Homo sapiens: one gene and its partners. Each later gene encodes a partner of the first gene's protein in a complex. Each region holds a gene or a part of one and is shown on either strand. Other genes may lie near its edges.

Region 1 (8,272 bases):
AGTCAGGATGAGCTGCACACCGAGAACGTGCTCCGTGGACTGCAGGGGAAGCTCCAGCTTAAAATGTAACATGTCCGTCTTCCCATCCTGGTTCCTGTCTTCTTCTCTAGTCTAGGAAACCCAAACAGGCCCAGCAGCCCTGGTCACTAATGAGTCTGGGAGGAATCCACATCACTTCTGTAAATACACAATGACCCACTGTCTTGCTGTACACAACAGGCATTATCTCCTCCACTAAAAGAGAAAAGCAGATAGATGTAAGTGCATTAATACTGGGGAGAGACACAAAGTGCATGGTCCCTGAACTTCATATCTGGGCCTTTCAAATGTTCACTGGCCAAAATAAATGGGCAATAACAAAAAACATCTGGATAGTATTTGTGCCTTTCAGTTGTCTCATGTGATCTTGCTTATTTTGCACTGATATTTTTTTCTTTTTTACAAATATGCCTGAATTTGTATGGAAATTTTAAGTAGCATGTCAGAATAGTCTTCTATGTCTCTAGAAGTCAACTTGTTAAAATAGAAAAACACCTAATCCTAATCATTATGCATTCCTCCAACAAACTCAAACTCAACAGAAAATCACCAAGCTCTATTTTTTTTTGTTTTTTTTTGAGCCGGGGTCTAACTCTATCGCCCAGGCTGGAGTGCAGTGACGCAATCACGGCTCACTACAACCTCCGCCTCCCAGGGTCAAGGAATTGTCCTGCCTCAGCCTCCTGAGGAGCTGGGATTACAAGTGCCCACCACCATGCCCAGCTAATTTTTTTATTTTTAGTAGAGACTGGGTCTCACCATGTTGGCCAGGCTGATCTTGAACTCCTGACCTCGGGTGATCCGCCCACCTCAGGCTCCCAAAGTGCTAGGATTATAGGCGTGAGCCACCGCACCCGGCCTTACCAAACTCTGTTTATAGATTCTGAAACCACGAGTGTCTTTGCTTCAGATTCTTGATGTTGGATCTTATCTCATCATTCGTGTGAGGACCTGAAAGCCTTGTGCATCTTTTAGTAGCAATCAATGAAATGAAAAAGGAAGCTATGTCAAATCAGCAAAGTATTAAAACCATATCTATTTGATAAATTACGGGCATGAAAGGAAAGAAGACAGAGGTCTGTAGAGGAAAAAAGACAAAATACAGCTTATGAAGCATATGTAGGCAGTGAAAAAAAACTGGTATCCACTCCTACCATCCACAGTCTTGCCAAACAGTGATGCTAAAATGATGATCAGGAAAGCACGGTTACTGAAAAGTGATCACTGCTGACATGGTCCCTCTGCACAACTCTGGATCTTTTTGCTACAACTGATCCTTTCCCACTGTGGATTCCCAGAACAATTCTACTATCGTGTAGCAGCATTCCCATCTGGATCCACCATCTATGGATTCATTTTGATTCCCACCATTACTATTACGTAAGGAAGAGATTTTTTGTGTGTGTGCTTTTTCAGGCTAATAATAAGGTCATTTGAAATGAAGAAATCTCAATTTTCAGAAACTTTCAATTATTTCTTTCTTTCTAGACAATAATGTTCCTTCTCTTAGGTCTTGTTTTAGAGAAACCTCCCTCCCTTTTCTCTTGGATACTTCCTCTCTGCCCTGTTTCATCAGCTTCGGGGAGGGATATCTGCTACCAGGGCTGATGATCAAGTTACTGAGGCAATGATGGACTAGTCATTATAGGTAGGATGAAAAGAGCCTGCCTTGCGGATCATGAGGTCAGAAGATCGAGACCATCCTGGCCAACATGGTGAAACCCCGTCTCTACTAAAAATACAAAAATTAGCTGGGAGTGGTGGCACGTGCCTGTAATCCCAGCTACTCAGGAGGCTGAGGCAGGAGAATCGCTTGAACCAGGGAGTTGGAGGTTGCAGTGAGCCAAGATCTTGCCACTGCACTCCAGCCTGGTGACAGAGCGAGACTCCATCTCAAAAAAATAAAATAAAAAATAAATAAAAGAGCCTGCCTTGTCTCCTGTGGATTTTCTTCAATTGGGATCTGGGTAGAAAATCTTATGTAACTCTCTGTGATGGATCCACACCTTCTAGATCTTTAGGGTTGGACAGGAAGAAAAGAGCACATTTCTCAACTTGCAACAGAGGATAGTGGCCAGGAGACAACTGCCAGAAGAATCCAGACTCCAACACACTGTGGGAGGGGGAAAAGCTCATTTCCTTTGATCTTTACAATAAATGTAAAGCCCCAGGCAGGCAGAACAGGTATTTTCCCATTACACAGATGACAAAATCAAGGATGAGTGAGATTAGGGCATTTATCAGAGGTACAGCAAGTAATGGTGAAGACAGGATTTGAGATCAGGTGACTTCAAATCTGGTCCTCTTTTTAGGACCAAAATGTCTAAAATTATTTTAAAAATTCCAAATGAAGACAGCAGGTTGGACAAATCTTCCTGAAAAACAGCAGCACCAGGCATCTACGTCTGTATACTTGCCTGTGCACATCCTTCCATTCCAAGTTCGCGGGGGACAGATTTGGCACAACACCATCAATAGTGTCTACTTGTTAAATTCACTCATTGATCTGTTACGTACTTTTTGGAAACACGCCAGGCACTATTTCAAATAATGAGACTATAATGGTAAACAAAATAGACAAAGTCCCCATCCTAATGGGGCATACATTCCCGATGGACAATGTAGAAAACAGTGACAAGTGCCGCTGACAGAAATGAAGCAGGCTAAAATTAGAGAATAATGAAGGTAAAATTTAACAGAAATTGGCCAGGCGTGGTGGCTTATGCCTATAATCCCAGCACTTTGGGAGGCCCAGGTGGGTGGATTGCTTGGGCTCAGGAGTTCGAGAGCAGCCTGGGCAACATGGCGATACCCTGCCTCTATTAAAAATACAAAAATTAGCTAGGCATGGTGGCGTGCACCTGTAATCCCAGCTACTAGGGAGGCTGAGGCAGGAGAATCGCTTGAACCCAGAAGGTGGAGGTTGCAGTGAGCCGAGATCGTGCCTCTGCACTCCAGCCTGGTGACAGAGCAAGACTCTATCTCAAACAAACAACAAAAAAACCCAAAAAGAATTTAACAGAAATTTTTAAATATTCAGGATGACCCAACTTGTTGGAGTCCTGAAGGAAGTGAAGTGATGGGGTGCAGGAACATCTCAGAGAGGAGGGATCCAGGCTAATCAGGTACATGTGCTCTGGGTACCCGTGGGATCAATGCATCTGGCAGAGTGGGTGAGAAGGAGAGCAGGGTGGAGAGAGGGGGGAGAGAAGTTTCGATGGAAAGGATGTGTCTCCCACAAATGACCTGTCACCAAGCTGGACTCTCACCCTCCTGGGGCTGGCGAAGTTTGGCTGTGCTCCTCTGTTATCACTTGGACCACTGAATAAATCAATTATTTAATTCCATTTAGTTGAAAGTAAGTTTAACATATGTGCAATAGCTAACAAAGGCAGGCATTCAAAGGCTACTACTTCTTTAACACAAATTCTAGGTCGCTATCTAACCTCCAACTGGTACTTAGCCAAGAGAATTCACATATCACACCACCACCTTATATCTACAACGTATATACAGGCTTTGGAACAATTTTTATATCCATTCATTGTCCCACGTGATTCCTCTGCATATCCCAGGAGAGATGTGGGTACTCTCATGCCCTGTATATGGATAGATAAATTGAGGGTGAGGTTATGAAACCCAGTGACAGAATTGGGACTAGGACCTTGTGGGACAAGGATCTTGGTTTGCTGACTCCTGATTCAGGGCTCTTCTATAATAGCTCATAAGAACTCTAACTGAAAAGATTTCTCATGGTTAAAGGAGGATAACCCTTTAGAGATACACATGAAATCCACACGCATGTACTGAGCAGAGTCAGAGGGAATTTTTTTGTTTTTTTTTTGAGACGAAGTCTTACTCTGTTGCCCAGGCTGGAGTGCAGTGGCACAATCGCCACTCACCGCAACCTCCACCTCCCAGGTTCGAGTGATTCTCCTGCCTCAGCTTCCTGACTAGCTGGGATTACAGGTGTGCGCCACTACGCCCAGCTGATTTTTGCATTTTTAGTAGAGATGGGGTTTCACCGTGTTGGCCAGGCTATTCTCAAACTCCTGACCTTGGGTGATCTGCCCGCCTCAGCCTCCCAAAGTGCTGGGATTACAGGCATGAGCCACCGCACCTGGCCAGAGGGAATTTAACATAGGGAATAAATAGTCCCATAGGTATTAGAGGACTGAAGACGTAAAAAGGGGATATCCCAGCAACACAGAGATAGTAGCTGCAGGGAACATTTCCCACACCTAGGACTAGAGAAGAAGGGGAAGCGGGTGGGACTGATAGAACTTAGAGGTTCAGGGAAGAGGCCTCGAAGAGCTGAGCCTCAGACTTCAAGAAGGGACCGCGGCCCAGATGGGGCCAGGACCTCTGAGCTTGGAGGAAGCATGCACTAGAGGGAACCTTGAAGCCGGTAGGAGAGGCGTCCTGCTCCTTCCTGTTTGCTGGTTGTCCCTGTTTGTGGCATCCACAGTGGTTCTTCACCCTGGCAGTGGTGACTGGTTTCATTTCTTTTTTTCTGCACTCCCAGAACAAGGCTCATCATGCCTCCTACTGGCAGAACCTAACAGGAAGCTGCAGGGGAAGAAGGTGGTTTCCAGCATCTCAGCAGGAACCTGGAAGCTGAGCGTAGGAGGGTGGGTTTGGAGCTGAGACAATACCTCATAACCAGCACACCACCTGACTGCAGGAATTGCCAGAAATTCAAGTGCCATTGTTTCCAGAGTATCCTGATGTGTGACTTTTTTCCCCGTCAGGAATTCCCAGCATCTGACGGTTTGTTGGAATTTTGTTTGGTTTCTGTTTTGTTTGCGTACATTTCATTCATTTAAGTCGTATTCTTTTTTTTTTTTTTTTGAGATGCAGTCTGGCTCTGTTGCCCAGGTTGGAGTATGGGTGGTGCAATCTCAGCTCACTGCAATCTCCGCCTCCCGGGTTCAAGCAATTCTCGTGCCTCAGCCTCCCAAACAGCTGGGATTACAGGAACCTGCCATCACACCCGGCTAATTTTTGTGTTTTTAGTAGAGACGGGGTTTCACCATGTTGGCCAGGCTGGTCTAGAACTCCCTACCTCAGGTGATCCATCCGCCTCGGCCTCCCAAAGTGCTGGGATTACAGGCGTGAGCCACTGCGCCCGGCCCATATTCTTTTATTAAAGGTTAATTTCCTAGTTTATACCAGTGTCTATTTCACCATATACTTGTCATCACCGGGTGCTCCTTTCTTTTTAAGCTAAAAATACTCTTTGGCACCAGTTGTGGGTCTCTAGCAAAGCAGAAACTGCCACTTCGTGGTTCCTTTCCACCTTTCTACCTGTATTTCTTTTTTTTTCTATTTCTTTTTTTCTTGATACAGGGTCAAAAAAGGCTAGAGTGCAGTGGCACGATCACAGCTCATTGCAGCCTTGACCTCTCAGGCTCAAGTGATCCTCCCACCTCAGCCTCCTGAGTAGCTGGGACTATAGGCATTCACCACTACCCCTGGCTAATTTTTAAATTTTTTATAGTAGGGCCTCACTATGTTGCCTAGGCGGTCTGGAACTCCTGAGCTCAAGGGGCTAGCCTCCCAAAGTGCTGAGATTATAGGCATGAGCCACAGTGCTCAGCCTTGTATTTCAATCTAAGATACCATTACTTATAAAATGAACCATTATTTTATATACCACTGATAAAAGAAAAACATTTCCAATTAAACTATGACACTTTTCTAATCACTTACTTTTTAAAAAGTTACTAAAAGAGCTTTTAGATTTAGACATATTTACACAGATATGTTTATTTACTTAGAAAAATATAAGCAAAATAGGTCGGGGCAGTGGCTCACGCCTGTAATCCCAGCACTTTGGGAAGCCGAGGTGGGTGGATCACCTGAGGTCAGGAGTTCGAGACCAGCCTGACCAACATGATGAAATCCCGTCTCTACTAAAAATACAAAAATCAGCCGGCCGTGGTGGTGCCTGCCTGTAATCCCAGCTACTCATGAGGCTGAGGCAGGAGAATCGCTTGAACCCAGGAGGCGGAGGTTGCAGTGAGAAGAGATTGCGCCACTGCACTCCAGCCTGGGCAACAGAGTGAGACTTCATCTCAAAAAAAAAAAAGAAAAGAAAAGAAAGAAAAATATAGGCAAAATAAATTGATTCAGGGATTCCTAAAACTTCTTTACATCCTCATCCTTTTGAGTAACACTTTAACTCAGTCAACAACCCATACTTTTCTATGCAACTTTGTCCTTTGTGCCATCAAACATGTTGGTGATACAGCATTAAAAGAAAAACAAAAACAAAAAACAAAAATTCAGCTGGGCATGGTGGCTCATGCCTATAGTCCCAGCACTTTGGGAGGCCGAGGCAGGCAGATCACTTGAGCTCAGGAGTTCGAGACCAGCCTGGCCAACATGGTAAAACCTCATCTATACTAAAAATACAAAAATGAGCCAGGCGTAGTGGCAGGAGCCTGTAATCCAGCTCCTTCGGAGGCTGAGGCAGGAGAATCTCTTGAACCTGGGGGGCGGAGGCTGCAGTGAGCCAAGATTGCGCCACTGAACTCCAGTCTGGGTGACAGAGTGAGACCCTGTCTCAAAACAAACAAACAAACAAACAAACAATTCATAAAAGAAACTAAAAGCCATTGGTCTGGGCCCTTAAGCAGACTTTGAAATTATGGAGAGCTTTCCTGTTTTTAAAAGCCTCTCAAACTTTCCCTTACTTGCTCTCCATTCAATTCAGGGGTTAAAAAAATGTTCTACTACTGTCTCTGGGGTTTCCTCTGAGGTTGCTGATGCCCCTTCTTTTTAATTGCATTTTTATTTTTCTAACACCTACCTCTTACACAGAAATGATGCCCCTTCTGCATGTTTTGATGCCGGCACAGGTGTAAGCAATGAGAACTATGCCATACCTGCCTCCTTGCCAACAGTTGATAACCACAGACAGGAAGACACTGATTTCAGGGATGAGAAGAAACAGGTGTCTTAGAAACACGGTACTCTCCACTCATCCTCTGGAATCCTTCTATAACCTTCAGTCCCTGTATTCTCTGGGTCCACACATGCCTTCAAGAGCTATGTCAGCCTCCTTGAGGCTTGAGGGGGAAAAAGTCACTCTGCTTTTCTCTTCTCTCATTAAAAACAACAAAAACTAGACTTCCAAAGCATTAAACATGTAGGGAGCTTAGAGACGCTGTCCAGGATGAGCTGACCAAAGCAGAAGCAAGGCTGTTTGTGACTTCAGCATTTCCCCCAATTAGCCACTGCAAAGCCACCTCCCAGCACTTGGTCCAACCTTAATCAACAACCACTGTTTCCTTTGCCTTCTGGACAGTTTCCTGGATAGACTGACGTCAGTCTGGCTCTATGTTCAAAGTTAGAAAATAAAAGTAGTTTGTTGCAATAAGGGCTAAGATTTTAAGATATAGCATAAGAAATACTGAGTTCCAGTCCAGACTCTGTTCACTTCAAAGCAGTGGCTCACACCTGTAATCACACCTGTAATCCCAGCTCTTTGAAAGGCTGAGGTGAGTGTATTACCAGAGTTGAGGAGTTCTAGACCAGCCTGGCCAACATGGTGAAACCCTGTTTCCACTAAAAAACACAAAAAAGTTAGCCCGGAGTGGTGGTGCATGCCTGCAGTCCCAGCTACTTGGAAGGCTGAGGCGAGAGGATTGCTTGAACCCAGAAGGCAGAGGTTGCAGTGAGCTGAGATTGTGCCACTGCATTCCAGCCTGGCTGACAGAGTGAAACTCTGTTGCAAAAAAAAAAAAAAAAAAGAAAAGAAGAAAAGCTAGGGCAAATTGTACCACTTCTCTATTTCTTTTTAATTTTTTATTTTTTTGAAATGTGGGGTCTTGCTATGTTGCCCACACTGGCCTTGAACTCCTGGGCTCAAGCAATCCTCCTGCCTCAGCCTTCCAAAGTGCTAGGATTACAGGTGTGAGCTATCATTTCTGGCGGCAAATATTTTTATCTCATTTACCTGATCATTTAGAAATGTATCTCCAGGTCTTGAGATAACATTTGCATTGAAAATTCTCAGTTTCTCAGTTTTAGGCATTCTCTATTGAGTTCCCACAAGGAAAGATGATTTAGCTTCTTCTCTCCCCCAATTCCTCCCACCATCCCCTATCACATACCCAATACCTTTCTCATTACCCCCAATAGAGTTAAAATCTCTTTTTAGTAAACATTCAGTGTTCATATAATTAAGACTATGTCAATCCTATTCACAACTCTGATAACATTTTGG
Region 2 (8,272 bases), on another chromosome or scaffold:
CCTGGGCGACAGAGTGAGACTCTCTCTCCCAAAAAAAAAAAAAAAAGAAGTTATGAGTTAAGTCTTCAACCAATCCCAGATTTGACAAATCCCAATCAATTTGCTATAGATACAGATACAGGCCAAGCACCATGGCTCATGCCTGTAATCCCAGCATTTTGGGAGGCTGAGGAGGATCACTTGAGGCCAGGAGTTCAAGACCAGCCTGGGCAACACAGACCCCTATCTCTACAAAAAACAAAGAAAAAATTAGTCCGGCATGCTGGCAGATGCCTGTAGTACTAACTACTTGGGAGGCTGAGGTAGGAGGACTGCTTGAGCCCAGGAGCAAGGTTACAGTGAGCTATGATCGTGTCACTGCACTCCAGCCTGGGTGACAGAGCAAGACCTATCTCAAAAAAACATAGAGGCTGGGCACAGTGGCTCACGCCTACAATGCCAGTACTTTGGGAGGCCATGGCAGGAGGATCACTTGAAGCCAGGATTTCAAGACCAGCCTGGGCCACAAAGTGAGATTTTGTCTCTAAAAAAAAAAAAAAATAGACAGATAGCTGGACAGACAGATAATAGTATAGAGATAGTCATAATAAAAATGGGACCATATTCTACATACTGTTTTAAGGCTTTTCTCACTTAATATATAATGCCTAATATGCACTTACAATATTATAAGTGGCTTCATCATCGTATACCAGCCTATTAATACCCCAATTTGTTTAACCAATATAGATATGGATATGGTACAGCCCAAGCACCGTGGCTCATGCCTGTAATCCCAGCATTTTGGGAGGCTGGGGAGGATCACTTGAGGCCAGGAGTTCAAGACCAGCCTGGGCAACACAGACCCCGATCTCTACAGAAAACAAAGAAAAAATTAGCCCGGCATGCTGGCAGATGCTTATAGTTCTAACTACTTGGGAGGCTGAGGTAGGAGGACTGCTTGAGCCCAGGAGCAAGGTTACAGCGAGCTATGATCGTTGGTTTAGGTTTAGGTTTCTAATTTTCCCCAATTATATGTAATGCTATAATGACAACCTTATACATACATCTTTATGACTGTCTCCAGTTGTTTCCTTAGGATATGTTTCCTGAACTGGAACTGCTAAACCAAAAGGCAGGTAACATTATTTAAAGCTTCTGAGACACACTCCCAGATTGCCCTCTAGAAGGGCACAATATACATTCTCACCAACACTGTAGTAAGAGTGCCTATTTCCCTGTACCCTTGCCAAGACTGGATATTATCATTCCGTTTTTACTGGGCCTTAAAGGATAAGTAGAAATCAGACAGACAGTAGGAATGGGAAGCAAATCCAAGTGCAAGAACGGCAATGGCCAAGGCTGGGTAACGACTCATGGTCTTTGGGAAACTCTGAGTACCAAGGTTGGGCTGGAGTGGATTTGAGATGGCTGGTAGCAGGTGATAGGCTCTGAAAGAAGGTGGGAATGAATCTGAATCCAGGCTAAGAAGCCTATAGATAATGAGAACTTCTGAAGGTCTTTTAGTGAGTGCTTGACAGGATGAGGTGTGAGCTCATAAAGCAGGAGCAGGGATGGACGACCACGAGGGCTAGAGTGATGGAAGGCTCCACAGAATGGGATTCCTTACTCCCCTCCAGTCAGCCACCTCCCCAATCCTGTGCAGTATTTCAGTATCATCATCAGATCTAGATACTTCTCCCTAGCCCCACTGTCACAGCTTTTGGGGAGGATGGGGAGGGAAACCGTTAATCCGCATCTGCAATAGCTTTTTACTTGGTTCTCTGCCACCAGGCTTGGCCTTGTGATCCACTGCATATGATGCTGCAGAATTACATAAGATGGGAATCTGATCCTCTTACAACCCAGGCCCTGTGGACTTCAGGACAGAGTCCAAACCCCTTAGCATATACACAAGGCCCCTGGGGACCTGACCCCTGATCTCTTTCCTACACTCCTCTCACCCCACCCCTCTTCTGGCCACACTGAGTTACCTGCAGTTAAGCAGGCCATCCCACATCCCCCCATCTCTGTCCACGCAGTTCCCTCTGCCTGGAATGCCCTTCCCCTCAGTCCATGCTGACCATCTTCCACGTGTCCTTCAGGACCCAGCTCAGCTCCTGTTTTCTGGGGAGCATTCCTTAGTGGGGCTGAGTTAGATGCCATTCCTCTGCCTTCTCATCGTGCTTGATGTAGAAACTGCCATCCACTCCTCTGTCTCCCTTACTCGACGGTAAGCTCTTTGAAGGCAGGAGAGTGCCTAACTCATCTTTATGTCCCTGGTGCTGGCATTCAGGAGGTACTCAAGAAAGGTTGGGAGAAAGGAAAGACTGCTGAGACAGGAAAAGGAAAGGAAGAGGCAAGGGTCAGGGGAGCCTCCAGGTTTTTGGCCTGGTGTCGGCCTAAAAGACTAATGGTAGAGGAAGTCAACAAGGGACACTAGGAAATCAGTTAGAGGTGGAAGGGAGAAATTCATTCATCCATTCAACTCATTATTATTATTATTATTTTTTTTTATGGAGTTTCGCTCTTGTTGCCCGGGCTAGAGTGCAATGGTGCGATCTTGGCTCCTGCAACCTCTGCCTCCCAGGTTCAAGCGATTCTCCCACCTCAGCCCCCTGAGTAGCTGGGATTACAGGCACCCACCACCACGCCCAGCTGATTTTTGTATTTTTAGTAGACACGGGGTTTCACTATCTTGGCCAGGCTGGTCTCAAACTCCTGACCTCAAGTGATCTACATGCCTCAGCCTCCCAAAGTGCTGGGATTACAGGCGTGAGACACCATGCCCAGCCAATTCAACTCATTCTTAACGAGGGCCCACTATGTGGCAGGAGCTCTACTAGGTACTAATGGTTAAGGAGAAAAGAGATCTTCCAGGTTAGGCGCAGTGGCTCACGCCTGTAATCCCAGCACTTTGGGAGGCCGAGGTGGGCGGATCACGAGGTCAGAAGTTCAAGACCAGCCTGGCTAACACGGTGAAACCCTGTCTCTACTAAAAATACAAAAAATTAGCTGGGCATGGTGGCACACGCCTGTAGTCCCAGCTCGTTGGGAGGCTGAGGCAGGAAAATTGCTTGAAGCCAGCAGGCAGAGGTTGCAGTGAGCCGAGATGGAGGCACTGCACTCCAGCCTGGGCAACAGAGCAAGACTCTGTCTCAAAAAAAAAAAAAATAGCCCCAAGTTGGAGCAAAAATGTCACTTTCAGGCTCCTGTATTTACTAAAGGGAGGAAAACAGAATGACTTTCAACAAATACTGAAACATGCTACAGGCCAGGTAGCCAGAAAATTAATCTGACTACATTGCCCTGTTCTCTGAGCATTTTTACAATACTAGAAATAGGCTCAAAATCCCATTGGTCAATAAAATAGTTTCTCACAGGAAAAACCCATTGTACTTCTTAAAAGGGTTCACCTATCAAGTATCAATTGCTAAAACTTGCTATAAGGCTAAATTTAAATTAGCTATCTCTGAATACTAAGTTGGTCCCATCCTGAATTAATGAGCCTCTTCTAAGTGCTCCTAGTTTTTCAAAAAGCCTTGAAGCTGGGCGCGTTGGCTTACACCTGAAATCCCGGCACTTTGGGAGGCCAAGGAGGGCGGATCACCTGAGGTCAGGAGTTCGAGAGCAGCCTGACCAATATGGTGAAACCCCACCTCTACTAAAAATACGCCAGGCATCGTGGCGTGCACCTGTAGTCCCAGCTACTCAGGAGGCTGAGACAGGAGAATTGCTTGAAGCCAGGAGGCGGTGGTTGCAGTGAGCCACTATCACACCACTGCACTCCAGCCTGGGCAACAGAGCGAGACTCCATCTCATAAAAAAAAAAAAAAAAAAGAAGCCTTGAAACCTCAATTATAAGAGATCATTCAGAACAGATTATTTATTTACCTTATAATCAGCTGGAAATGTCATTTTTCATTGTTCTATACAATGCGAACTGTGAGAATTCCTGGTAGATTTACATATCAGAAAAGTACAGATTTCTTATCTAATTTTTTGTTACAAATACTATGTCCACAACAAAAGCTGTGAAATTAAAATGCACTTTTCACCCTAGGCTATACTAATTCACTGATACAAAAAATGTGACCACTGTCTACAACTCAAATTGAAATGTAATTCAATCTTCAAACACAGAGGTTTCATTACATTATTTTAATGTATATTCTCTCTTCTCTTTTGCCTGCACAGTCACCTGGCTGAATGCAAATAAGGGATAGCTACTTTTTTTTTTTTTGAGACTGAGTCTCGCTCTGTCACCCAGGCTAGAGTGCAGTAGCGCAATCTCCACTCACTGCAAGCTCTGCCTCCCGGGTTCACGCCATTCTCCTGCCTCAGCCTCCCGAGTAGCTGGGACCACAGGTGCCCGCCAACATGCCCGGCTAATTTTTTTGGATTTTTAGTAGAGACGGGGTTTCACCGTGTTAGCCAGAATGGTCCCAATCTCCTGACCTCGTGATCCACCCACCTCAGCCTCCCAAAGTGCTGGGATTACAGGCGTGAGCCACTGCGCCCTGCCAGGGATAGCTACTTTTTTACATATTTGTTTGGACGGTATGGCTTCAGAACGACGTAAAACACTGGAAATCAGGTTTGGGTTTTTAAGCCTGGGAAAGTTTTCCCTTTCTCCAAATTGTATTATCCTGGTCAAATTTTTTCAAAATTGCATGTGTCATACGTAAACTTACGTGACAACTGGAACTGAGCAGGCAGAAAAGACACTGAAATCCACGGAGCTGCAGTCGGGATCACAGCAGCAGTTGATGTCACACTGTGCTGGGGATAAGTCACAGACACAGAGAACAGCAACTGCAGAAAAAAGAGGGGTAGGATCCAGAACATCACCATCAGCAGGTGGTGACTGCCCCCTGCCACCACAGTGTACCATAAGTCAATTTCATAAAAAAGATCCATTTTATTTTTCCTATTGCACTTTGGGGGAAATTTGTGAAGTGGAAATGAGTCAGTTTGAGCATCCCACAATCAGAGGTTTCCCCAAAGTGGCTAATGATCTGACTCGCTTGGAAAGTTCTGTTAGTGCTTTGCCTACAGAGATGCTGATTTCGTAAGCTGAATATGAAACCCAGGCATTTGCAGTTTTCAGAAACTTTCCAGGTGATGCTTATAATTAGACAAGTTTAAGAACAAGCACCCCTAAACCATTTGCCTGACCATAAGAACCACCAGTTTAAAACTCCAAAGTCCTTAAGCCCCTCCTCTAGAGATTACGATTCAGAGGAAGGGCCCACTTAAACCTTCAGGAAAGAGACTTTTCAATCTTGCCCCCTCTTCACGTATAACCTGCTGCTTTAAAGCTGAACTCATATTCACAGACCCTTGGCCAAGAATCATACCGGCTCAGGTGCTCAGAATGTCTTTGGTGATTTAGACAATAAGGTATGAGGGCGGGGTAGGAATCTCCCCCACCTCACAACTTTTAATTATTTTATTTATTTATTTATTTTTTAAAGGAGTTTCGGCTCTTGTTGCCCAGGCTGGAGTGCAATGGTGCAATCTTGGCTCACTGCAACCTCCACCTCCTGGGTTCAAGCTATTCTCCTGCCTCAGCCTCCTGAGTAGCTGGGATTAAAGGCATGCACTACCACGCCCAACTTTTTTTTTTTTTTTGTATTTTTATTAGGGACGGGGTTTCACCATGTTGGCCAGGCTGGTCTCAAACTCCTGACCTCAAGTGATCTGCCAGCCTTAGCCACCCAAAGTGCTGGGATTACAGGTGTGAGCCACCACTCCTGGTCAACTTTTAATCATTAATAAGGATGATTTTTCTTTGCCGCTTTGCAACAAAGATGATTATCTGGATTTTTAATTCTCTATCTTATTCTGTCAAATAAGGACAAGAAAACCCTTTTAAAAAATAGAGAATGAATTTATAGTTGCAATTATTGCTGGAAGGGAAGAAGTAAGATCAACCTTCAATCTTATCTGTAACGTTTTCTTTTTCAAAAGAAGATTTCAAACCAGGCACGGTGGCTCACATCTGTAATTCCTGCACTTTGGGAGGCGGGCAGATCACTTGAGGTCAGGAGTTTGAGACTGCCCTGGCCAACATGGTTAAACCCTGTCTCTATTAAAAATACAAAAATTAGGCTGGGCGCGGTGGTTCATGCCTGTAATCCCAGCACTTTGGGAGGCCAAGGCAGGCGGATCACAAGGTCAGGAGATTGAGACCATCCTGGCTAACACGGTGAAACCCCGTCTCTACTAACAATATAAAAACTAGCTGGGTGTGGTGGCGGGCACCTGTAGTCCCAGCTACTGGGGAGGCTGAGGCGGGAGAATGGCGTGAACCCAGGAGGCGGGGTTTGCAGTGAGCCGAGATCGCGTCACTGCATTCCAGCCTGGGCGACAGAGCGAGACTCCATCTCAAAAAAAAAATTCAAAAATTAGCCAGGTATGGTGGTGGGCGCCTGTAATCCCAGCTACTCAGGGAGGCTGAGGCAGGAGAATCGTTTCAACCCAGAAGGCAGAGGTTGCAGTAAACTGAGATCACACCACTGCACTCCAGCCTGGATGACAGAGTGAGACTCCATCTCAAAAAAAAAAAAAAAAAGATCTCAAGCCAAAAAACAAAATTAACAAAAAAGGAATCTGAAGCAAATGCTGCTAGTGTCCACCCAACATTCTTATTTGTACGTATGAATTATTTCACGATAAAAAGGAGCTTTAGAAAAATGTACCCCACAGCGGCCGGATGCAGTGGCTCAAGCCTGTAATCCCAGCACTTTGGGAGGCTGAGGCAGGTGGATCACGAGGTCAGGAGGTCCAGACCAGCCTGGCCGACATGGTAAAACCCCGTCTCTACTGAAAATACAAAAATTAGTCGGGCATGGTGGCACACACCCGTAGTCCCAGCTACTCAGGAGGCTGAGGCAGAAGAATAGCCTGAACCCAGGAGGCAGAGTTTGCAGTGAGCCGATATCGTGCCACTGCACTCCAGCCTGGGTGACAGGGCAAGATTCCATCTCAAAAAAAAAAAAAGAAAGAAAAAGAGAAAAGAAAAATGTATCCCATAGCTCACGCCTGTATCCTAGCACTCTGGAAGGCTGAGAAGAGTGGATCCCCTGAGGTTAGGAGTTTGAGACCAGCCTGGCCAACGTGGTAAAACCCCATCTCTACTAAAAATACCAAAAAAATTAGCCAGGCATGGTGGCGCGCGGCTGTAATCCCAGCTACTTGGGAGGCTGAGGCAGGAGAATCGCTTGAACCTGGGAGGTGGAGGTTGCAGTGAGCTGAGACTGCGCCACTGCATTCCAGCCTGGGCAATTAAAAAAAAAAAAATAGTACCCCGTAAAAGGTATAATGCACTCTGCAAAAAAAATGTGTGAGGTGAAGGGGAAGGTTTTGTTAATATGCCATGATTTCTTAGTCTAAGACACAAAAGCTTTCCCCCTAAAGTTTACAGTGCTTCTCTCTAGTTGAGAACTCTTCTATGTGCCTAGTAAAATGACACAACTTATGCACGCTAATGTAAAAAATTAAAAGTGCTTTAGGTTCCCTGTATGTTTAAAATTACTATCTTGCTTTGTTTTCAAAACTTAAAGCCCTTATAGGCAGCTGTAAGACTACTAAGGACGAAGCAATAGTGTTTAATAACTCCACTTAGGAAAAAGGTTTCTACCCAGGATGCGAGTGTACTTAATCATCCACCAAGTAGCTGTTGAGCCCCTGTCAGGTCTAAGCAGCACTCAGCTGCCCTTGCCTCCTATCGCATCTGCACACCTGGCTTGTAGAGCAGGGTACTAATGAACAGAGCCCAGATTCAAGATGAAGGGTTATCACTCTTCTCCACCAACACTGCCTGAAGCCACCTGCAATTTTCCATCCAGTTCTCCACTCACAGTCAGCCTCCTGCTCCGATATCTACAAGTTGCGTGTCCTAAAATTAGGCAAATAATTTATCCACCTGAAAAATGGGGATAACAGTACCCTCATCATGGGGTTGTTGTAAGGATTAAATGAGATACATCATAGGTGAAATGCTTAGCACAGTGCCTGCCACACAGTGAACAGTTAACAAATGAGTTATTACTGTCACAAGTCTAAAGAGAGGTCCTTTAAAAAGGTGAAGACAGGTGACTGGCAGAGTGCAGTGGCTCAAGCCTGTAATCCTAACACTATGGGAGGCCTAGGTGGGCAATCACTTGAGGCCAGGAGTTCAAGACCAGCCTGGGCAACATGGTGAAACCCCGTCCCTACAAAAAATTAGCCGGGCGTGGTGGCATGCAGCACCTGTAGTTCCAGCTACCCGGGAGTCTGAGGTGGGAAG
Region 3 (8,084 bases), on another chromosome or scaffold:
ACAATTCAAAATAAAATTAATGACAATTACATCCTAGGGAATACAAAAAGACATACCTCCAGTTCATTTTCCAGTTTCATTACTTTAGTTTTTAATTGATTTTCTATTTTTTTAAAAAAAAAGAAAAACGTTTTAATTGATTAGTTACCACAAAACAAACTTTTAAATAAATTTCAATAACAAAATTAATTCTTTTAAAAGAGTCCATCATGATTATAAGGTAACAAAAAGTATTATATGGCAGATCCATAAAATAGGAGTCTAGAAATATTTATTATTAAATGTTATATATTAAAAATAAACTGAATATATATATTTTATAGAATATAATTTAATTTTCTACAGTTTAATGAACAAATGGAATTCATTATTTAATACCATAATAAACTTTTTCCAAGGTGCTTACCAAATTTTGCTTGTTCTTCTCCAGCTTTTTCTACTTCTTCCAAAGCCAGCTCCACTTCTTGAGCTTTCATCTAAACATTAAAAAAAGGTTATTTCAATATGCCTTTATACTGGAATGTAAGCACTGAAAATAAAAATTCTGTTTTATTTGTTATGATCCTTAGTGCCAGCAATGGCTGGCACATGGAGACGTTCAGTAAATATTTGCTGAATAAATAGTTTTTGGTTTTTGTTTTTGTTTTTTTTGCTTTTGAGATAGGGCCTCACTTTGTCACCCAGGCTGGAGTGCAGTGGCACAATCTCAGCTCACTGCAACCTCCTGCCTCCTGGGCTCAAGCAATCTTCCCATCTCAGTCTCCTGAGTAGCTGGGACTACAGGTGCATGCCATCATGCTTGGCGTGCCATCATGCTTGGTGTGCCATCATGCTCGGCAAATTTTTTCGTACAGGCAAGGACTCACTATATTATCCAGGCTAGTCTTGAACTCCCAGGCTCAAGCAATCCTCCTGCCTTGGCCTCCCAAAGTGCTGGGATTACAGACGTGAGCCACCATGCCAGGCAATTTTCTTACTTAAGACTACAATTTCTAGATTTTTAATAGCATGAAACATTTTTGATTCTCCTTTTTACCTCAAGTCCTCAAGTCTTATATCCAGTAATGCAACATCTCCCTTTGTAATGTCTTTCCACTACTTTTTTTCTGTTCCAATTGCTATTATTCTAATCCATAATTTCAGGTTTAAACTCCGCTATAATGTGATGTCTACAAAGCTCCAATTTCCTTCAGTTTGTCCTACATAATATACTCAGTTTTGCCTTCTTAAGGTGTATTTTTGTACCTATCAATTGTGTTTCGAAAACCTTTACTGCCTTCTCAATTGCTGATAGCATAAAATACACCTTTAAGGCCCTCAACAACCTATCTCAAAGTACTTACCCAAGATTTGTTTTCTCTACAGTCTGCTACAAACTTGCTGCACCTTGTTTCCTCAAATATAAAGAATAAACATATTTCCTGTTCTCAGTATTTATTTATGGTAACCAACAGCTCTAGAATTCCCTTACTATCTTACCACTGCATTGCCTTCCACTTATCTAACACTACTCCTCAGTATTGATCCTTTGTGAAGTCTTCTGACATCTCTTAAATCATTTCCCCTCTTAACAAATCCCTATAGCAGTCATTGTCTGCATTTGTCATTTGGACCTCAAGATATATTTCCTTATGTTACTTTTCAACATACTCATTCTATTTCCCCTACACACCCTTTTAGAAACTTTAAGTAGAAACTAGCAATGTTTTATACACTAAAATACTTAATTCACATTTAAATATATTGCATTTTTTAGTGGTGATGTAGATATTACCAGGTATTTTCACAAAGATTACCTTATATAAGAACAGATTTTTATAGTTCCACTAATAGCCAAACCTATAGTTAAAACCTACTACATACAAACCTTCATTAGTGACTGAGTAATTCTGAAAAGGTGTATCACATTTTCTTGCTTTTCACTTTTTAGCTCATTTACTTCCACCTAAGTAAACAGAAAAGCAACTGTTTTATATTTTATAACCTTCAAGCAAAATATAAGAACACTTCCAGATTGTGACAATTATAGTTGTCCCTGAAAAAAATAAATTCATATTTTATTAATAAATTAATCATAAGTTAATGTATATATCTATTATTATTGACCAATTAAGCACCTTGGATAAGGAAATCAATAAATTATCTGCCAGTTCTTCTTGACGGGGCAGGTCATCTGGGTCAACTTTCATTATTTCTTTCCAGTTTATATTAGGTGGCATCTTGAATTCTTTCACTGTGCTCCACCTCTGTAACAAAACAGGTGTATATTAGCATTTTCAAGGTACACAGTATTATTGGTTTTCTAGCACCTTACATTTTTTGCAGATTATTTCATTATAACTTTCTGATGTTAGCAAAACAGACAATTGGGCCACAAAATAGACAAGTGGGCAAAATAGCCTTGATCAAAAATAGCAGTCGGCACAAACTGTCAGAGTGTCCCGGCTAAATAAAATGTGACGGCTTCCTTGCTAACACTAATCTAAGTTAATACTTAAGATTTCTGGATCCCTTCCTCCACACCCCTACCCACAATGCGCGCGAACACCCTAATCCTGGCAAGCGCGAGGGTCTGTGGAAGGCCGACAATCATCCCTGATTTGGAGAAACAGAATTGGGGCTGAAAAAAAACGCAGAAATTAACATTTGGAATGAGTGAAGTTGTGCGGCGGAAACTGGAACCGAAGCAAGGCAGTATTAGGGACCCGAGGCTGGAAGGGCGGGGTAGCTATGCTGTGGCACACGGGCCCTCAGGCTAAAGAACCTGAGCGTGGAGTGACTCGCTAATCCTGCTTACAAGGATCCACCCACCTAGACCAAGCCTGGCAACCAGCGGAGGCCTCTCACTACCGCAACCACCAAGCTGGACCCGGCCGCGGGCCCTGACAGATCCCTATCGCGGTTCCACGCGGACTCTGGGTCCAGCCAAATGGTCCCGAGCAAGCCAAAGCGGCAGCGGCTGCTAGGCGACACCATCCCCAACTCCGCCAAGGCCAGAATAAGATCCCGGATGCCAGGAGAGCCTACAGTTCACGACCGTGGGTGATGCTTTACGTTTAGATTCTCCGCCGGAGTCCCAGAGCTCGGTGTTCAGGATGATGAGAAGGCGTGGAACGAGGACTTCAAATCCCAGAGTGCAGTTCTGCCTGAGGCTTCTGCATGCTGGGAACTGAAGTCCCTGAGAAGAGGAGGTAAGGCGCTCCCGGCATGCAACGCGTAAGACTGCGACGGTACCGGGGCGGCGGGGAAGGACCGAGAGGCGGGAGGAGCAGCGGCTCAGGCGCCTGCAAACTGGTGGCCTGAACGAGGTAGACCATGACTGTGGTTTCAGTGGCGTCACTCGCTGGGCTGCTCTTCCTGAGGTTTTCCTAAGCCATCCCCTGGCGGAACCGCCCCCAGGTGAGGTCGAGCTGTCGGTCAGCATATTGGGAGGAATTGAGGGGAGCAGTCCTGGGTTAGAGAAGCTTCTGCTATTGGGGCCGTAGGGCCTGGTCCCATTCTGAAAAAGTGGGAACACCCTGCCTTCTCTTCAGGCGTTTGCAAGCGGCGTCCAGGGTAGTGCCTTCTGTAAGAAGGAAAAAACAAAAAGTTTTAGCCTTGTTTAGTATCAGAATCTGTCTTGATAGTTAGAGTGAGAGCCGCGCAGCCGTGATCCTCGTTTGGGGGCGAGCGAAGAATTGACAAGAGGTCTCGGCATCCCGACCCCGCCCGCCTTACCTGTAGCACCATTCCTTTCGCGGATCGTGGGGCTTGATGGTTGTGGAGCTAGTATAAAGTCAAGGCTCTAGAGAGGAGAGGTTAGTACTTGTCCGGACCACTGCCGGGGGTGGAGAGAGAAGGGATCCAAGGACTCACCTGTACTATTGTTGCCACTTGCTTGGTTACCTAGGGTGCCCTTCCATGAAAGCGCCTTCTCTGGTGTTTACCACTCTTACTCGTGCAAGTTTTGCTCATCCTGCTCGTCTGCTCACAATCATGCTGGAGTATGATACATCTCTACCTAACTTTCCTAAGAAGCTGTAGACTTAAATCTAAATGACATTTCCAACTATCTGGACCAGTGCTTTGTCTTTTTTTTTTTTTAAACGCTGCTTTAAAAAAAAAATTACTGTACTTGACAGTAAATTTTCCTTTCGAAAATAAGTAATGAGTTTCTTTTTAAACCCCCAATTTGGGTAAAATAAGTAGCTCAGTACAAAATAAAAAGATACTGATTTTGTGAGATGAATTTTAAAGACATTAGTTAGATTTATAGGAATGACAATTTTACTACTTTTCTGAAAGATTATATGCCAAATACTATTCATTATCTTGTTTATTCTTCCTTACAATCCAGTGAAATAGGTGCTTACATTGTCCTCATTTTCCATCTGAGTTAAGAAACTGAGGCTTGGAGAAGCTAAGTAACTTAAATAGTGTGATTGAACACAGATCTCTCTGGCTGGAGGACATATTCTTAACTTCTATACACCTCCTCAGACATTCTGGGAAACCAATATTTGTGAAGTGCTTGTTCCTCAATCTTGCTATTTTTATTAAATGTTATATTTTAATTTTGTAAGTGTTTACTCAATAATTTGAATTAAACATTCTTCATGTTCAGTGTTCTTAATTCATAATTTAACATGGGATGGTGTTTCTGGAAAGGTGTTCTGATCTGGACCCCAGGAGAGGGCTCCTGGATCTCGCCAAGAAAGAATTGGAGGTGCATACACCCCCATTGGAGGTGGTAGACTAAGGATTGTTATAGTTATTTCTTGATTATATGCTAAACAAGGGGTGGGTTATTCATGAGTTTTCTGGGAAGAGGGTAGGCCATTCCTAGATCTGAGTGTTCCTCCCCTTTTTAGACTATATAGAGTAACTTCTTCACATTGCCATGGCATCTGTAAACTGTCATAGCACTGGTGGGAGTGTCTTTTAGGATGCTAATGCATTATAATTAGTGTATAATGAGCAGTGAGAACGAGCAGACGTCCCACCTTTCTCGCCATCTTGGATTTGGTGGGATTTGGCTGGCTTCTTTACTGCATGCTGTTTTATCAGCAAAGTCTTTATGATCAGTATCTTGTGCCCACCTCCTATCTCATCCTGTGACTTAGAATGACTGACAGACATCCTGAGAATGCAGCCCAGTAGGTCTCACCCTTATTTTACCCAGCCCCTATTCAAGATGGAGTTGTTGTGATTCAAATACCTCTGACAATGGTAGGAATGAAATTTAATAGTTACTGAGCACATGTTATGTCATACACTATGCTGACTACTGCGTGTTTGTTTTCATAATAGAAGTCTGTTTTCTCTAACACCTTTTCTTCTGTTTTTTTTTTCATTCGTTATAACTTATTTTTATGTATTCACTTACAAGTTTCGTTTGTCTGTATTACTCTTTTCTACCCTTCTGCCACCACCCTCTTGCTCACATTCATAAACTCAAGGTGCCTGGTCTCTAATGGTAAATTTTATTCTAATTTTTCAGAAGTGAGAACAAGTTCATAGAAGTTAAGTAATAATTGATGAAGCTAAGATTGTAACCTAGATCTCAGTGACAATTGTAACTAAAAGCAAAATCTTACCTAAATTTTATTCTTTAACTCATTCTAACAGTATTTTTTATCCTGTTTCCTGTGCTAGGCACTGGGGATACAGCAGTGAACAAGTCAGCTCTGGCTTGAACAAGTCAACTAAGTTTTTATGCATTGTCGTCTGTACCTAAGTGTGAGTCAGGAAATTTAACTCAGGTTCTAGTTCAATAACTCACTGTATATTTTTGAGGAAAATTGGCAAAACTATTATTTTTCGTCAGATTTTCTGCACCTGTCAGTTTTCATCAAGAAATGGGACTTATGTGACAATGTTGTAAGTGGCCTTGTTATAAGAACACTTGTCTGGACCTGCCTTCTTTCTGCCCTAGGCTTTTGTGAACAGTTTTATCTGACCAAAATCACTTCACAAGAAGGCCTCACCTTTTATTATTGCTTACCTTTGTTCTCTGTAGCAATGAATTTATATTCCTTGGATGTTACTTCTAGTTCCTTTTTGCTGACTTACCAAGAAAAGTCATAGTAGCTTACTTCTCCGATCTCTAAAACAAAGCATGGCCATTTTGTATCCATTGTGTGTCCTAAACATTTTGTTTTGCCTTATCTTCATGGCAAATTAAGCCATGGTTAATGGCTTAATTCACACTGACTCCCTACTGATCTTTCCAGTTTCCTCATGTTGAAGGAAGACAAGTATCTGCTTGCTGCACACTCATTCTTGTCCATGAAATTAAGGCAAAACAATTTGCCTTAATACAATTTACAGTTTTATTGAAGGGATTGTATTTAGTTTTGTATATCTATAATGTAGCTCATGAGAAGTCTTTGTGAACCAAAAAGTGTCTAAGACGGGTCTCAATCAATTTAGAAGTTTATTTTGCCAAGGTTAGGGACATGCCGAAAAGAAATAAACACTGAATCACAGAAACAGTCTGTAGTCTCTTCCTTTCTCTAAGATGATTTTGAGGGCTTCAGTATTTAAAGGGGAAAAATCCATTGGAAGAGAAAAAGGGTAGATATGGTAATCTATGTGTTGCAAGAGAAAAAGAGCAGAGAGGGAAATAGATATTATGTATTCACGTGGGGTGGTAAATCAGCACTTTACGTGAGATAAGATGAATGTCCTAAAGTAGCTACCTGTGGAGATATTTAACATTTGATGTGTAGCTGTCTGCTAAGAACAAAAGGAGAGCAGTTTCTTGCATGACTCAGCTTTCACCCTAATTTTTTCTTATAGACATAATGAATTGAGATCCCAAGTTTTATTTTCCTTTCACATTTCCAATTGCACTTGGATTTTGTGCACATATATAGTAACACCCCATTTTTGTAAGCAAACAGAAATCAGTCATCCCATCCACTTAAACTGCATCTGTAAGTCTGCTTCTGTGCCTAGGAAAAATTAGAAGTTCTCACAACTAACAAGAATAGTGTGTTACATGTTTGCAATAATGGCCCCCAGTGAGTCAGGTCCCCGTCTGCCTATGCCTTTGTGTAAATCTGTCCCTTCCCTGCAACCTCTACTTTGCAGGTGGCTCTTGGAAGTAACCTAAGATGACTCCACAACTGAGCTCGTAACATGCTCTCTCTCCCTTTCTCTCATACTATGCTCCCTTGGGGAATCTTAAAAATTCTGTTATCTTGGCCCTTTTATAACTTCTTCCCCATTGATTCAGGATGTACCTTGCTTGAATAATAATTTTTAAAATACGCACTAAATAGAGCCTTATAAAGAGCTTGTGCATTGAACCTTGCCCTCCTGTTGTCCTGAGATCATCATTTAAGAAGCCTAAGATAACCTATTAGAGGATGTGTTAATAAGTAGCAGAGACTAGTTTTCAAAGCTGAGAAATCTACCCTTTAAAAGCCATCCAGCCCTAATCAAGCCACTGGATAACTATAAGCACATGAGTGACCCCAGGCACAACTAACAGAAGAACCATATACATACCTATATATTTGTGTGTGTGTGTGTGTGTGTATATATATATATACATATATATGTATATATATGTAAAATAAAGATATATTGAAGAATTGAATTATTTTGAATGTATTCATTTTTAAGTACTTCAGATGCCTAACTTAACAAAGAAAACTTTCTCAGTACTTAAATAACTGATTAAATTTAGGAAATAAAACTTGAAACTATAGCAAATCCCAAGTTCTTATAAAAATTCCAATACTATTTGTGTATTTAGCTAATTATTATACTTTTCAACTATAGTTGTGAATCCAGAAACTACATAGTCAGTAGTTTAATATGTTTATTATGTTTAATATGTTTATTATACGTATTATTGTATATTTTAAAATTATAGTTATGCAGCTAATATATCAAAGTCTCCAGGATGTCAGATTCTCTTAAAGGTTGCAGTTACTCTAAAAAATCAGATGCATAATTTAATATTGTTTATTATGCATATTATTGTATATTTTTATATATTTTTAAATTATTTAATTTATTTTAAATTATTTAATTTAACAATAATTTAACAGCTAATGTATCAAGTCTCCAGGATGTTAGATTCTCTTAAACAT
Region 4 (7,695 bases), on another chromosome or scaffold:
TGGTAACCTCAGTTTGAAGTAGATCTGTACCAAAATGAAACAGCCTGTCAGAGTCCTTTGGATTATCAGTACCGTCAGGAGATCCTGAAGCTGGAGAATTCGGGTGGCAAGAAAAACCGACGAATCTTTACCTACACTGACTCTGATAGATACACCAATTTGGAGGAGGTATTGTTCTTTCTAGGGTCTCATAGCTTCCATCTTTGCTTCCTCTAGCTTTTTTGCCTCACTGAGTTCTGTGTGTTATGTCAGAGCCTAGTAAGGGGAGACAAGTAGCCTGTCTAGGAACTGCTGTGAGCTGCTGCTGCTGGCAGCCAGCCTGGAATAGAATGGGCACAGTCTACAGGTGGTGAGGCTGCTGCTCCCTTCTCTGCCTGCTAGAGGGCCTGGGGGAGCTGCCAGTATCTCTGATTATATGCTTGCAGAGTGCATACTGGGAGAAGTAACCACTGGGCTTGACTTCCTCCATGCATCATGAAAAAAGACAGGTAGTGGAGTCTGGAACAATATAGATAAAATTCATCAGGGGATTCAGCCCAAACTCTGAGTATATGGGTTTGAAGAGGAATTCAGTATAGCTATGGAAAATGGCTTATGTCCTCAATTTGCCTATGACAAAAATACCCTTGTGACCTTGTTTTACATTTTCTTCAGTCACTGCATTTCAGTTGCTTCTGTCTTCTCAGTAAGATTTTAAGCTCCTCGAGGGTAGAGCCTATTTTTTTTATTTTTGTCTATGACTCTGTAGGTCTCTGCAAGGAACAGGTATTCAATAAATGTTTTTGAAAGATTGACGTGCTTTCATTATTAGAGCTGTGGATTGATAACATTAGCTGGGCATGGTGGCATGTACCTGTAGTCCCGGCTACGTGGGAAGCTGAGGCGGGAGGATCACTTGAGCCAAGGAGTTCAAGGTTGCAGTGAGCTATGATAGCACCACTGCACTGCAGCCTGGGTGAGACCCTGTCTCTTAAAAAAATATATAAATTAAATAAAATTTGGGTTGTCTGTTTTGGAAAAGCAAATGAAAATGCAGTTAGTGCTCAGTTACCATGTGAGGATTTCCCACAAAATGCTTGTATCCCATTTGGCATTTTCTAACCACCTTGTTAACTTCAACATCTACCAAGCACACTAACCCAACTTTTTGTTGGTTTGTGCTCAGAGAATGCAGACTGATTTTAATATTAACATAAATAACTCCTTTTTAAAATCCAAAGGCAAACCATGATGTGGTAGAAATCTTCTTTGGGTTGTTTGGCTACTGCTCCCTCCGTTAGCATGTATAATTGTGAGGTGGCGGAACCTGTGGGGTTCAGGTCCTGGATGAGGTTTCAGGAGGAAGACTTCCCTTCAGGTACTTGGCTCCATGTGGCCCTGACCAGATGGCGTACACAGGGCTGCTTGCTTTTCCCAGCACTGTCAGAGAATGACCACTGCAGCCAGCGAGGTGCCTTCATTCTTGGTCGAGCGAATGGCAAATGTCAGGCGTCGCCGGCAGGACAGGCGAGGGATGTGAGTGCGGGCATGGGATGGGGGACAAGCTTTTACTTTTTATTTCCTAAAGTTGGGTAGTTTTGCATTTTTATCAGTGGTTATATATAGTATTCAAGTATTACTTTGTAATTAATTTAAAAAATAAATATAAAAATATAAAATATCTTCCTCACTCTTCATGTGGACATTTTTCCAAAGTGCCTCAGAGAGAGGGAAGGGATGTCATTTCTGTTTGTCAAATATTTTGGCTCTTAAAAAACAAAACAAAACAGTATGTCCACTAGCTCAAACTTCCCATTCTGAAGTGGCTCTCCACTGGGGTGCTCCATTGGGGTGTGCCAGGGAAGTGACCTTTCTGTGGTGTCTCCCAGGGAGGGCGGCATCCTCAAGTCACGCATCGTCACCTGGGAGCCCTCAGAAGAGTTTGTCAGGAACAACCACGTCATTAACACCCCTCTTCAGACAATGCACATCATGGCAGACCTGGGGCCCTATAAAAAGTGAGTGGCGCTTCTCACTGCCAGCTTAGAGCCTCATCCTTTTCTCCTCTCACCAGCTCTCCCCTTCCTGTTATTATCATCCTAGGTTATAGGGGAGGGAGGGACTTTTTCTTCCTTCTCTTCTTAGTTATGAGTGAAGCTTCTCACTGCCAACTCAGATCCTCATCTTCTTCTCCTCTCACCAGCTATCCCCTTCCTGTTATCATCCTGGGTTATAGGAGAGGAAGGGACTTTTTCTTCCTTTTTTTTCTTAGTTGTACTTGGAAGAAAGTTTTACCATGACAGCTCTCCCTATAGCCTCTGTTCTCTCCCCTGCAGTGGGCTCAGTATCTCTTCTTGTTTCCCTGAAGGACCATTGACCTCAACCTTGGTGTTTTCCTGATTTCTAGGCTTGGCTATAAGAAGTATGAACATGTCCTGTGTACTCTGAAGGTGGATAGCAATGGTGTGATCACAGTAAAGCCTGACTTCACGGGCCTCAAAGGACCCTACAGGTGAGGAGAGGAAGAAAGGGGTAGTGGAGACTGGCATTCCTTCCCTTGGTTGCACTTTTTGTCCCTAGTCAACTAGACTGTCAGAAAGTCCTTCATCTGTTCTAACTTTTACATTCCCAGGCAATGGTTCGTATTCTGTTCCAAGTCATAGGGCCTTAGAAAACCAGGGACTCCTTTCTCAGAAAATGTGCAACTGCACCAATTTGAAAGGGATCACTTCAGTGGTACAGTTAAATGACAGTGATTCTCTGTGCTGCTGAATGTAGGACCTGACCAGAACAGAGTGGGGTGAACTCAGCCAGGCTTTTCCTGTGGGCTGACTGTTCCTCATCTCTGTATCTTGGAAATGACAGAAATGTAAATTAGAAATTATCTGGCCCAACCTGTCCATTTTTCAGGTGAGAGAACTGGGTGGCAGGAATGTTGTGCCTTACAGTTTGACTGTAACTTCAAGCCAGAAATGGGCCCAGAACCTATACTTTCTGAGTCTAGTCTGGTGCCCTCTCTGCTTTACCCTTTTGTTTCTCTCTCCTGGTCGTCAATACAGCCACTTTTATCATCATATACTTTAGTGAGGTGTATGGCCCCTGATCGCTCATCCCTGGGCTGGGAGCTATCCCAGGGCCCATCTCTCATTATTAGAGTTGCTCCTTTCTGTGGTTTTGACCTTACAGGATTGAGACGGAGGGGGAGAAGCAGGAGCTGTGGAAATATACGATCGACAATGTTTCCCCCCACGCACAGCCGGAGGAGGAGGAGCGGGAACGGCGAGTGTTCAAGGATGTAAGCGCAAGTTCATTCCAAGTATCCAAGGGATGAGCCTCAGTGCCTGGAGCTGAGACCATTTCTGAACTTGATGTCAGCAGTTGCTCGGGAAAAGCCTTGCCCTTCATGGCCCCTTCTGACTTAGGCAGCATTGCTGACATATCAGACAGAAGTTTTTGATCATATTATAATAATAACAATAACCATTTATTTGAGCATTTACCATGTTCTGTGCTAGGTACTTTACATACCTTATTTCCTTTAGTCTTTACAACAACCCTTTGAGGTGAACACTTATTACCACCTTATAAGTGGGGAAACCGAGATTGAGGAGCTAAGTAGTCTGCCCAAGGTGGCATAGCTTGTAAGGGCGAGAGTCAGGATTCTGCCCCAGACCAGCTGACTCCAGGGCCTCTGCTTCACGGTAAAATGGCGGTGAGTCAGGTGCTTACGCCTCCAGCTCTTGCTGACCCTTCCCACTATTGCTTTTCTTCTTCCCATTCAGAACTGAACTTTGGTCTAGCTTGGGTTGCATCTTGAGTTTTGGTTTGGTTTGTTTCCTCAGCTTTATGGCCGGCACAAGGAGTATCTCAGCAGCCTCGTAGGCACCGACTTTGAGATGGTGAGTAGCTTGGCTTCCTGCAGCACTGTGAGCTGTGTTTAGCCGGAGCATTCTGACTGTGGATGAGTTACACTACCTCTCTTAAAGGCCCAAAGGTATACTCTACAGTGTGAAAAGGAAGTCAAAGAATAGCACATATAGTCCTTGTTATGTGTTTTGCAACATTGCATGTTGATAGAGAACTGTTAATGCTAAGAAAAAGGTCTGAAAGGCTATGCACATGCTGTGGGTGGCTTTCTCTGGGGAGGGTGGGATTAGATGTGGTAGAAGGGTAGTGGGTGGTGAGAGGGATATATTAGGGATTTTTGCTTTTTATTCCCTAAACTTAGGTAGCTTTGAATTTTTATCAGTTGTAATGTATTTAGGTATTACTTTATAATTAATTTAAAAAATAAATATAAGGATGAAAAATGTCTTCTTCACCTTTCATGTGGATATTTTTTCAAAATACCCCATAGAGAGGCAGGGGTGCCATTTCTGTTTGTCACATATTTTGGCTCTTAAAAAATATAGGCCTGATGCGGTGGCGCATGACTATAATCCCAGCACTTTGTGAGGCCAAGGTGGGAGGATCACTTGAAGCCAGGAGTTTGAGAGCAGCCTGGGCAACATAGTGAGACCACATCCCTACAAAAAAAAAAAAAAAAATTAGCAAGGCATGGTGATACATACCTGTAGTCCCAGCTACTCATGATGCTGAGGCAGCAGGATTGCTTGAGCCTAGAAGTTTGAGTTTGCATTGAGCTATGATCACACCACTGCATTCCAGCCTGGACAACAGATCAAGACCCTGTCTGAAAAAAAAAGAAAGTGGTTTAGTTCAGCTATTCTGTTGTGCTGTTCTTTGTCTTTTCTCATTCTAAGAGTTCTATCTCTAGACCTGGAAACAAGGATAGAATTACTTCCTGGTCTCCCTCTCTTTCTCTGAAAAATTAACCTTCACTATTTCCATATTGCATAAGCAACAGATATTCAGTATTTAAAAGTTAGATAAGACATGCACAAATAATTAAAAAAGAAAACTCCCTGGTTTCTTGACCTCAGCCATCTAAAGGGAAGAGGGCGTTCTGGCTTCCCATTGCACACCACAGGACAGTTGCTGTTGCTTGAATAATTTCCCATAGTGCATTGTCCTCACTGCCATTTAAATTATGTACTTTCCCCCTACATTGTGAATCTTAGGAATGAAGGAAACAGATCTGTGGAGAAGTGTCAGGGTGGGGAGAAAGTGCAGTAGTGACACCCAGGGCCTGACCCCTAGTGGCAGGTCGTCTGCAGATTTGTAGATGGGGCTGGAGGAGAAGTGCCAATTCCCTCCAGGCCTGCTGATCCTTTCCCACTTCTCTTCACCTTAGACTGTCCCAGGTGCCCTCCGGCTCTTTGTAAATGGAGAGGTCGGTAAGTGTCTTGCTAGCATAGATCTCTTGATGCTTAGGCACGTGCCTAGATGGAGCTGTGAATAGTCTCCTCCACTCTGGTAGAGGCCTTGTCTGCTGTACTTGGGAAACTCAGTGGTGAGTCTTTCCTGGAAACGCAGAGGGTTCCTGGCCCTCAAAAGACTTGCTCTCAGGGTGTGTAGGCCCCTCAGGATTGGGTTGGGTGCTAAGGGTGGTAGGAGAAAAAGCTAAAATAGCTTCCTGTTTTCTCTCGTAGTTTCAGCCCAAGGCTATGAGTATGACAATCTCTACGTCCACTTCTTTGTAGAATTGCCAACTGCTCGTAAGTAATATTCTTAAGTCTCTCCTTTTATACCCATTCAGACAGATCTAGAGGCATTTGGTCAGGCTTCCTTTCCCACTCCTCTGCTGAAACTGTTACTGTTCTTTTCAAGGTCATAGATCACATCCACTTTACCAAACCCAGTGGAGACTTCCCTGCTTTCACCTCGCTTGACCTTCCTGAAGCATTTTCCAGAGCCCACTGTGCTGCATGACACACTTCTCTGGCTTCTGGCTCCACACTTCTCTCTCCTATCTCGCTGGTGGCCCCTCATCCTTCTTGGGTGATGCCTTCCCTTCTGTTGATCTTAAACCGTGAGAGTACCCACAGCTAAGCCAAGGCCTTCTGTTACTCTCTGTCTGCAGTCTTCCTGGGCAACGTCATCCATCCTATGGCTTAAATACCATCAATACGTCTCAGACTCCCAGGTTTCTGCCTCTAGCCTTAACCTTTTCCCTGGACTCCAGACTCATATCCAGTTACCTCTTTTGTCATTTCTGTCTAACATGACCAAAAAGAACTCTTGATTCCTCCTCTTCCCTCAAACCTCTCCTCCCTGGTCTTCCCCATCCTAACAGAATGGCAGTGTCATCTACTGAGTTGTTGATGCCAAAAACCTAGGGAACATCCTTGATCCCTCACTTTCCCTAGCTCCCTATAGCCAGCCAATCTGTCAACAGTTCCTGTCCGTTCTGTCTTCAAAAGCTGTTGTGAACCTATTTGTTCTCTCCAGCACCCTACACCAAGCCACCACCATCTCTTGTCTAGGCCAGTGCATTCAACTTCTGATGTATCCCCCTGCTTCCTGCCTTGCTCCCATTTGCCGTTGATTTGCCACAGACACCAAAGCCAAGTTGAGCTTTAAAAAATGTAAACAAGTTATGTCCCTTTTGAGCTGAAAACCCCAACAGCTTCCCCTCCCACTTAGAGTAAAATGTAAACTTGATACCCTGAATGAGCTGGCCCCTGCCTATCTCTTCCATACAACCTTCCAGTCATTCTTCCCAGCCAGGTTCATTCCCACCTTGTAGCCTTTTAAGGGCCGTTTCCTTTGTCTGAAACCCTTTCTGCCATATCTTAGCATGGCTGGTTCTTTCTGAGTTTAGGTCTCAGCCTGTGTCGCCTCTGAGAGGCCTTCTCTTACCACCCAGTCTAAATGAGCCTCCCAATCACTCAGTCCCTTCCCCGTTTTGTTTTTAGTATAGCACTCATCACTACCCAATAGTCTCTTGTTGGTTTGGTTTTTGTCTGTCTCCCTGCTTCCCCCAGAATGTCAGCTCCATGAGAGATGGGGATCTTTTCTATCTAGTTACCAAGATACCCCTAAGATATACTAGCACATAGCAGGCACTCAGTAAATGGTAAATGAATGATTGATTGTGTGAATAAATGAATAAAGAAACTGTCCGCCCCGTCTGGGAAGTGAGGAGCGCCTCTGCCCGGCCGCCCCATCTGGGAGGTGTACCCAACAGCTCCGAAGAGACAGCGACCATTGAGAATGGGCCATGATGACGATGGCGGTTTTGTCAAAAAGAAAAGGGGGAAATGTGGGGAAAAGAAAGAGAGATCAGATTGTTACTGTGTCTGTGTAGAAAGAAGTAGACATAGGAGACTCCATTTTGTTCTGTACTAAGAAAAATTCTTCTGCCTTGGGATGCTGTTAATCTATAACCTTACCCCCAACCCCGTGCTCTCTGAAACATGTGCTGTGTCAACTCAAGGTTAAATGGATTAAGGGCGGTGCAAGATGTGCTTTGTTAAACAGGTGCTTGAAGGCAGCATGCTCCTTAAGAGTCATCACCACTCCCTAATCTCAAGTACCCAGGGACACAAACACTGTGGAAGGCCGCAGGGACCTCTGCCTAGGAGAACCAGAGACCTTTGTTCACGTGTTTATCTGCTGACCTTCTCTCCACTATTATCCTATGACCCTGCCACATCCCCCTCTCCGAGAAACACCCAAGAATGATCAATAAATACAAAAAAAAAAAAGAAAAGAAAAAAGAAACTGTCTTTTTCTGAATGACTTGCTTTCCTCCCAGGCGAGCTTACTATATTTGGTCTTTGGCTTTCAGACTGGTCAAGCCCAGCATTCCAG

What was found.
Region 2: TMEM231 (region 1) and TCTN1 share a complex: the UniProt entries of both Homo sapiens proteins name them as parts of the tectonic-like complex.
Region 3: TMEM231 (region 1) and CEP290 share a complex: the UniProt entries of both Homo sapiens proteins name them as parts of the tectonic-like complex.
Region 4: TMEM231 (region 1) and MKS1 share a complex: the UniProt entries of both Homo sapiens proteins name them as parts of the tectonic-like complex.

What each region holds. Positions count from the first base shown.
Region 1 is NC_000016.10:75,545,844-75,554,115, forward strand, and holds part of TMEM231 (transmembrane protein 231), read right to left. Parts: intron 235-8,272; exon of another isoform or gene 112-234; coding exon 1-111. UniProt on the Homo sapiens protein: Transmembrane component of the tectonic-like complex, a complex localized at the transition zone of primary cilia and acting as a barrier that prevents diffusion of transmembrane proteins between the cilia and plasma membranes.
Region 2 is NC_000012.12:110,616,358-110,624,629, reverse strand, and holds part of TCTN1 (tectonic-1 isoform 1 precursor), read right to left. Parts: intron 7,883-8,272; exon of another isoform or gene 7,726-7,882; intron 4,795-7,725; coding exon 4,674-4,794; intron 1-4,673. UniProt on the Homo sapiens protein: Component of the tectonic-like complex, a complex localized at the transition zone of primary cilia and acting as a barrier that prevents diffusion of transmembrane proteins between the cilia and plasma membranes.
Region 3 is NC_000012.12:88,139,089-88,147,172, forward strand, and holds the start of CEP290 (centrosomal protein of 290 kDa), read right to left. Parts: upstream 3,001-8,084; 5' UTR 2,812-3,000; intron 2,787-2,811; exon of another isoform or gene 2,645-2,786; intron 2,247-2,644; 5' UTR 2,220-2,246; coding exon 2,118-2,219; intron 1,946-2,117; coding exon 1,868-1,945; intron 477-1,867; coding exon 407-476; intron 104-406; coding exon 57-103; intron 1-56. UniProt on the Homo sapiens protein: Involved in early and late steps in cilia formation. Its association with CCP110 is required for inhibition of primary cilia formation by CCP110.
Region 4 is NC_000017.11:58,208,561-58,216,255, reverse strand, and holds part of MKS1 (tectonic-like complex member MKS1), read left to right. Parts: intron 1-12; coding exon 13-168; intron 169-1,357; exon of another isoform or gene 1,358-1,417; coding exon 1,418-1,515; intron 1,516-1,868; coding exon 1,869-1,997; intron 1,998-2,386; coding exon 2,387-2,491; intron 2,492-3,165; coding exon 3,166-3,274; intron 3,275-3,821; coding exon 3,822-3,878; intron 3,879-5,233; coding exon 5,234-5,276; intron 5,277-5,531; coding exon 5,532-5,597; intron 5,598-7,672; coding exon 7,673-7,695. UniProt on the Homo sapiens protein: Component of the tectonic-like complex, a complex localized at the transition zone of primary cilia and acting as a barrier that prevents diffusion of transmembrane proteins between the cilia and plasma membranes.